2 linked regions of the Homo sapiens genome follow. The protein of the gene in region 1 purifies or fractionates together with the protein of each later gene. This does not show direct contact. Each region holds a gene or a part of one and is shown in the gene's direction. Other genes may lie near its edges.

What was found.
Region 2: the proteins of IGDCC4 (region 1) and DPY19L1 purify together in Homo sapiens (affinity purification with mass spectrometry; one large-scale study listed by BioGRID and IntAct). This does not show direct contact.

Annotation. Positions count from the first base shown.
Region 1 is NC_000015.10:65,380,984-65,384,947, reverse strand, and holds the end of IGDCC4 (immunoglobulin superfamily DCC subclass member 4 precursor), read left to right. Parts: intron 1-528; coding exon 529-939; 3' UTR 940-3,464; downstream 3,465-3,964.
Region 2 is NC_000007.14:34,932,986-34,936,485, reverse strand, and holds part of DPY19L1 (protein C-mannosyl-transferase DPY19L1), read left to right. Parts: intron 1-3,500. UniProt on the Homo sapiens protein: C-mannosyltransferase that mediates the C-mannosylation tryptophan residues on target proteins.

The DNA of each region.
Region 1 (3,964 bases):
GTCCTGGAAGGAAGGGGCAGGAAAGGAGGAAAGGGTCTCTGTGCTTGTGAAGAGGAAGTAATGAGTTCTCTGGAGACCCCTGGGTGGTAACTTTCCTGGGGATAGAAGTCTAGCCAGGAGACCCCTGGAGCCTCCAAAGGTTGAGTAGGTGGAGGGCAGGCCAGTTTGCAGGAACCTGTTTCAACCTGGGTTGAAAACAGCCCCTCCTCTACCCAGACCTAAGTGGGCCACAGCAGTTCCGTGGATCTGAGGGTGTGGCTGGCCTGAGTACGCTCAGCCCTTCCTCCTGTCCCCAGAGGCCCTGACTGAGTCTGGTACTCCTGAAACTCCTGGATGAGGGCAAATGGGAAGTATTCCATCATTCCCTGCCTTTGTATAGGTTCGAACAGTTCCTGTGTATCCTTCACCGACTCCCATGTGATACTTACTCTGATGGAGGGTCAGACTTTCTGCCCCACGTACGCTGGTCATTCTGATGATTACTCTCAGTAATGGTCACTTTGTCTTTGTGTTCTCTGCTCTGATCAGGGCAATGGGAGGAAGAAGTCACCCCCAGCCTGCAGGAACCAGGTGGAGGCTGAAGTCATTGTCCACTCTGACTTTAGTGCATCTAACGGGAACCCTGACCTCCATCTCCAAGACCTGGAGCCTGAGGACCCCCTGCCTCCAGAGGCTCCTGATCTCATCTCGGGTGTTGGGGATCCAGGGCAGGGGGCAGCCTGGCTGGACAGGGAGTTGGGAGGGTGTGAGCTGGCAGCCCCCGGGCCAGACAGACTTACCTGCTTGCCAGAGGCAGCCAGTGCTTCCTGCTCCTACCCGGACCTCCAGCCAGGCGAGGTGCTAGAGGAGACCCCTGGAGATAGCTGCCAGCTCAAATCCCCCTGCCCTCTAGGAGCCAGCCCAGGCCTGCCCAGATCCCCGGTCTCCTCCTCTGCCTAGCTCTTCCCAGAGGATGTGGTTTGGGGCAGGCAGGTATGGATCACATAGGATGCGATACCTGTGGCCGTGTATGTCCACATGTGTGCCTGTAGATACATCATCAAGCCCTTTGGAGCTTCCTAAGTTGCTTTGGCTGAGGGGAGAGGAAAACATGGATTATTCACTCCCCCCATACTCTTTGTGATACACATGTGACATGTGAAAGACATACGAGACATAGCTACATGTGATGTGCACATGTGTGAAGTGCATGTATGCGTACTGGTTGTTGAGCTGGGAAACCGTGGCCCAGGCAGTGGTCACTACAGCCTGATTGGTCCTCCAGGTCAGAACGGTGCCCCACAGTGGTCAGTCCCCAGCCCTGTGGGCCCCCACCTCCATCGCCCAGCCTTTTATTACACACTCTGAGAGTGTCTCCAATGCCTGTCTGACAAAGACAGTCCCAGCCCATTCTCCTGTCTGGCTGGGTTGGGTGCAAGCAGGCTCTGAATGCCTGGCATTTCAGCTGCATCACCTCCCAGCTCCTTATTGCCCAAATAGAGAGGGTGGCCCTGGCTCCCCTCCGAGCAACTCTGCATTTAATTTTGTAATCTGGGAAGTGCCTGGTTTTGAAAATCCGCTTTCTCTCACTCTTCCCCTCCTTCCTTGCCCCTGGCTGCTCTAGTGTTCTGTCTCCCAGTCACCTCGCTCTCCCAGCACCAGTGCCCTTCTCCTGCTCCCAGATACTCTTTCCTTTCCTCTCTCCTGTTTTCCTTCCTCTGCTATCTCTCACACCTCTCCCAGACTATGTCATCTTGTTCTCCTGCCTGGGTTCAAACTCTGCATCCTTCTCTAACAACGTGACTACCTCATGTCTGCTTCAAGGCCCCCGTGCCCTTCCTGTATCCGCGGCTGCCGCGCACTCGCCTGCCATCCTCCTGCCTCCTCTTCACTCAGTGCTTCTGCTTGCCCTGCCCCAGGCAGCCCACCCACGCCCAGTGCGGGTGTGGAGAAGATCTTCTGGCTTCCCTGCATCTTGCCTTTGGGATTGGGATCCAAGGGTTCTCCATGGATGGATCCAAGTCATAGAGGGGAATGTTTGAGACAGGGAAGGGGGCTGTGATCCAGAGGCTCAGAATAAAAAGATGCCCTCCCTTCTATGCAGGGGGGCAAGTTTACTGGATGGAGATGATTTGGGCCTCTCTTCCAGAAGAAGCTAAAGGAAGAGAAGGGGAGTGAGAGTTCAGGGAGGCCCTTCCCACCCTGTGAGGCTTGACTTGATCTGGATTGGGGATGACAGGAATCTCACCCTCTGGGGTGCTGGCAAGGAGGTCTTTGCACAGGAAAAGGGGTAGCTCATTTCAGTTTGTTTTTTCTTTAAATTGAATCCTCAAGTCATTTTCTGTTCACCTGCCGCACAGGGACAAGCTTGACTTCTATTTTCTGTGTAGTGAAAACAATGTCATTTATTTGGTTTTTCACCTCAGCCCTCTCATAGGAGCATAGAATGTTAGGGTCTTTACTCCCTAATGATGTCTGATTGGCACATCAAGAGTTAACTCTGCCTTCTGGGCCAAATTCGAAATAACCAGTCCATTTTTCCTTTTTTTTTTTTTTTTTTTTAAATGGTGGAATGTCTCTCAGCACAGTTGCGGCTTCCTCAAACCCTGAAAGCATCTGTGTTTATTATACTCGGGTGTCACTCACTGTTGATGTCTGCACCTACGTTTCCACCTCCTCCCCCTCCTTCAGCCAGCCTATGATAACACTAAAGATTATTAATGTTGGTTTTGTATCTCGTTAAAGACAGAATTGTCACTTGTAGTATTTCTGTAGCATTCAGCGCTGCTGTGGCTAACACCACTGTGTATGTTTCATCATTGCTCTGAAGGTCAAAAGCCTCATTTTATTTTGCTGGTTTGATTTTTTTTTTTTAAAGAAGAAAAAAAAACTGCCCTGAATTAAATGGCTGTTTTAACAGTAGGCTCTTAGCATTATACCACATAGTCATTTTTCATGTTCTTGTTTAACAGGCACTGAGGTTCTGGTTTAAATTAAATAGCTGCAAATGAGACAATTTATAACCCATTAGGTTGGGTGGAAAATTGTTTCTCAAAAGCAAATAAGTAATAAATCTGGTATCTGCCTATAACTCACAGTTGATAAGAAAGTGGCCATTTCTCACTAGCACTATATATGATTTGGGCTCTGGGTAATTTGGAAGTGTTAGGTTTGTGTCTTTGTAGCAGTATTTTTATTAGAAAAGAATCTATTGGCCTTTTACAGGGTATTAATCCCTTTGTCACCTACCATTGATGCCTTAAGTTTTCTGAGTCTCAATTAAAAATCTTCCTTTTCTTGATGCATGACAAGTGTAATCAGTACTTGCTCATTTATTTGTCTGTATTTAGTTTATGCTGTACTATTTAATTATCCTTCCAGCGTTTTTTTTTTCTCCTTACAAATATGATACTCTTTAGTGTTAAGCTAAGGCATTGATTCATGTATCTGTCCTTATAATGAATTAATAAACTATTTTCCAGAAATGTGGAATTCTCTTTTGGAACCATTGACCATGACTAGAATTTCCTCAGCCTTTGTGCCCTAGGGATTTTATTTCTTACTGTGATGGGAAATGATGTTGTTGTTGTTTTTGAGATGGGATCTCTCTGTCGCCCAGGCTGGAGTGCAGTGGCACAATCACAGCTCACTGCAGACTCAACTTCCTGGGTTCAAGCAGTCTTGTCACTGTAGCCTCCCTAGTAGCTGGGACTACAGGCACATGCCACCATGCCTGGCTAATATTAAAAAAAATTTTTGTTATAGAGATGTGGTCTCGTTATCTTACCCAGACTGGTCTCGAACTCCTGGGCTAAAACCATCCTCCTGCCCCAGCTTCGAAAAGTGCTCGATTACAAGCATGAGCCACTGCCTCTTGGCCCAAAATAGTGTTTTGTTTGTTTGTTTGTTTGTTTGTTTGTTTTTTCAGACTAATCTCACTTTGTCGCCTAGGCTGGAGTGCAGTGGCATGATCTCGGCTCACTGC
Region 2 (3,500 bases), on another chromosome or scaffold:
TTCTTTGGGCTTCACTCTCTTGAAACAACTGTAAGTTACTGGAACATAAAAATAATTTTCGTAACCTTTTTTCTCCAAGCTAACAATGAGCCTTTGAGAGTTCATATTCTGCCTAGACCCCTGCATAGAGTTTGAATATGTGAAAGTTGCAGAGGCTTTGTGCTGTAGAGTGTTGGGAGAGCTCCCTGGATTTGCATAGCTCTAACAGTCTCATGTTTGGGTAGGCAGAGCACTGTTTTACCCACACAAGAAGGGATATGAAGGCAAATTCAGGATGTATGGCAATAAACTTTGCACACTAAACAAAATCAGCAGACATTGAACTGACTTCAAGTCACTTACGAGCAATCAGACTGAGAGTTGGGGTGCAGAAGAGGGTGTGCTGGATTTCCCCATCTGGACCTTGACTTGCCATTTATTGTGTCTGTCACAGCAGGAGTTGAGTGGGAGGAAGCTACGAAAGTGACTCTCTCATCTGTTTTCCCCACTCATTAAAACAACACTCTCCATCTAGTACAAGATCTAAGCCAGGCTGATGACACACTGTCAGGAAACCTTGGACAGGTCCACTCTGCTTCAACCTTGACACAAAACAAAAGCTGTGCTTTCTGTCCTGACAGGGAAGCAAATGGGGAGTTCAGATAGGAGAGGAAAGTGAAGAATGACTAATATTTATCTAGTGTTTACATTTAGAGTAGGAAGTTTCTTGACAAAGCTTTCTGCCTGGTTTGGGACCTTCCTTATTTCCTTGGCCTTCACTCTCCATTTCAGTTATGATCAGCCTGAAACCCCTGTAGATTGCTGGGACGTGAAAGTATGTTGGAATGGGGGAAGCAGATGGGGAACTCAGTTAGGAGAGGAAGGGGAAGAGGGACCAATATTTATCTAGTGCTTAATCTGTGCCTGGCAATTGGTGAGCACTATGTTTAAATGATCTCATTTACAAGTGGCTTAATTGTATGGCTTGATTATTCCTTAAATATTTGACACTGTGTTTAAATATAAACACTCAAATATATTTGCATGCAAGTTGTAGATTAGTTTTAAATTAACTACAGTTCTCTGCTTTCTTTTACTCCAATAATAGAGTTGACATAGAATACATGTATTTAGAAGGAAATTATTCAGATTTTCACTAATGCTATTTGCAGATGGCTGGCCTGGGGAAACCTTGGGAAACTCAGATGAGGACTAAATAGTGTTGCACAAGGCAAACAGAGCTCCCCAAGACAGCTGTTTGCCCTCTCTTTTTCCTAAAAGCTGTTGAACTCAGGAAAACTGTGGGTCGTTCTCTACTTTCTGTGTGTCTCACTCTCTGCCACCGTGGGCCCTCAGTGTTGTAACAGTTCAGCCTTGACGTGTATGAGAAAATTACAAGGTAGAAAACCCATGCCCAGCCATATGATCATAGGTGTTCCATGTGAGTAGAAACCAGTGTCAGCAAAGGTGTGCAAAAAGTGTGCACTTGAGCCCTCTTCATGGGAACACTCACTGGCAAAACATTTCTAGGGGATAGTTTGATGAAGGGAAGGTAAGAAAAAAATTGTGCAGTCCTTTGGCAGAGTGATAATGTTGCCTCTAGAGCAGGGGTCTCCAAGCCCCCGGCCATGGACCAGTACTGGTCTGTGGCCTGTTAGGAACCCAGTCTCACAGCAGGAGGTGAGCGGAGGGTGAACAAGCATTACAGCCTGAGCTCTGGCTCCTGTCAGATGAGTGGCAGCATTAGATTCTCATAGGAGTATGAACCCTATTGTGAACTGCACATGCGGGGGATCTAGGGTACGTGCTCCTTATGAGAATCTAATGCCTGATGATCTGAGGTGAAACAATTTCATCCCAAAACCATCGCCCCCACCCTCCAGCCCATGGAAAAATTGTCTTGCAGGAAACCAGTCCCTGGTGCCAAAAAGACCGGGGACCGCTGCTCTAGAGGTTTAGTTTGCAGAAGGGAGCTCTGCACAAGACTGTTTGTAGCTGCATTGCTTTATAATGGCAAAATGGGAAACAATTAAAGTATCTGTCTGTAAAGAATTGGTTAAATAGTACATATGAGAACTAGCAGCTTTTAAAAACAGTAGAATAGATCTTTATGCACTGAGATGGAAAAATGGTTCCACGTTTTATTGTTCAGTATACAGTCCCAGAATAATTCCATTTTTGTAAAAACAACTCAAGAGCATCTGCCAGGGTTTTCCAGAGGGACAGAACTAATAGGATAGATGTGGCCGGGCGCGGTGGGTCACGCCTGTAATCCCAGCACTTTGGGAGGCTGAGATGGGCAGATCATGAGGTCAGGAGATCGAGACCATCTTGGCTAACACGGTGAAACCTTATGTCTACTAAAAATACAAAAACTTAGCTGGGCGTGGTGGTGGGCACCTGTAATCCCAGCTACTCAGGAGGCAGAGGCAGGAGAATGACGTGAACCTGGGAGGTGGAGCTTGCAGTGAGCCGAGATCACACCACTGCACTCCAGCCTGGGCGACAGAGGGAAACGCCATCTCAAAAATAAAAAAAGGATAGATGTATATATGAAATGGAGTTTATTAAGGAGTACTGACTCACACGATCACAAGGTGAGGCCCCACAATAGGCCATCTGCAAGCTGAGGAACAAAGAAGCCAGTCTGAGTCCCAAAACTTCAAAAGTAGGGAAGCTGACAGTGCAGCCTTCAATCTGTGGCTGAAGGCCCAAGGTCCCCTGGCAAACCACTGGTGTAGACCCAAGAGTCCAAAAACTGAAGAACTTGGAGTCTGATGTTCAAGGGCAGGAAACATCCAGCACAGGAGAAAGATGGAGGCCAGAAGACTCAGCCAGTCTAGTCCTTCCACAATTCTTTTGCCTGCTTTTATTCTAGCCATGCTGGCAGCTGATTAGATGGTACCCACACAGATTGAGGGTGGGTCAACCTCTCCCAGTCCACTGACTCAAACATTAATCTCCCTTGGCAACACCCTCACAGACACACCCAGAAACAATACTTTGATCCTTCAATCCAATCAAGTTGACACTCAATACTGACCATCACAGCATCTATGTATATAATGATATCTGTGTCTGTATGTGTGTCTGACATTGGAGAAAGATACAGCAGATAGCAAATATTGTATGTTCTCACTTATAAGTGGGAACTAAGCTACCAGGATGCGAAGCATAATAATGGTACGGACTGTGGACTCGGGAAGCGAGGAGTGGGGTGAGGGATAAAAGACTACACATTGGGTACACTTTACACTGCTCTGGTGGTGGGTGCACCAAAATCTCAGTAACTGCCACTGAATAACTTATCCGTGTAACCAAAAACCACTTGTTTCCCAAAAGCTATTGAAATAATTTTTTTTTTTTTAAAAAGGTCCAGCAGGATATATGCTGGATTGTTTATAGAAGTCACCTCTGAGAAATGCTATTGGAGATGATGGTGACTTTCATTTCTTAAAATGTATGTAGGTCTATATTTTGATACTTTTATAATGACTGATTATTATAAATTAAAGGTGTTA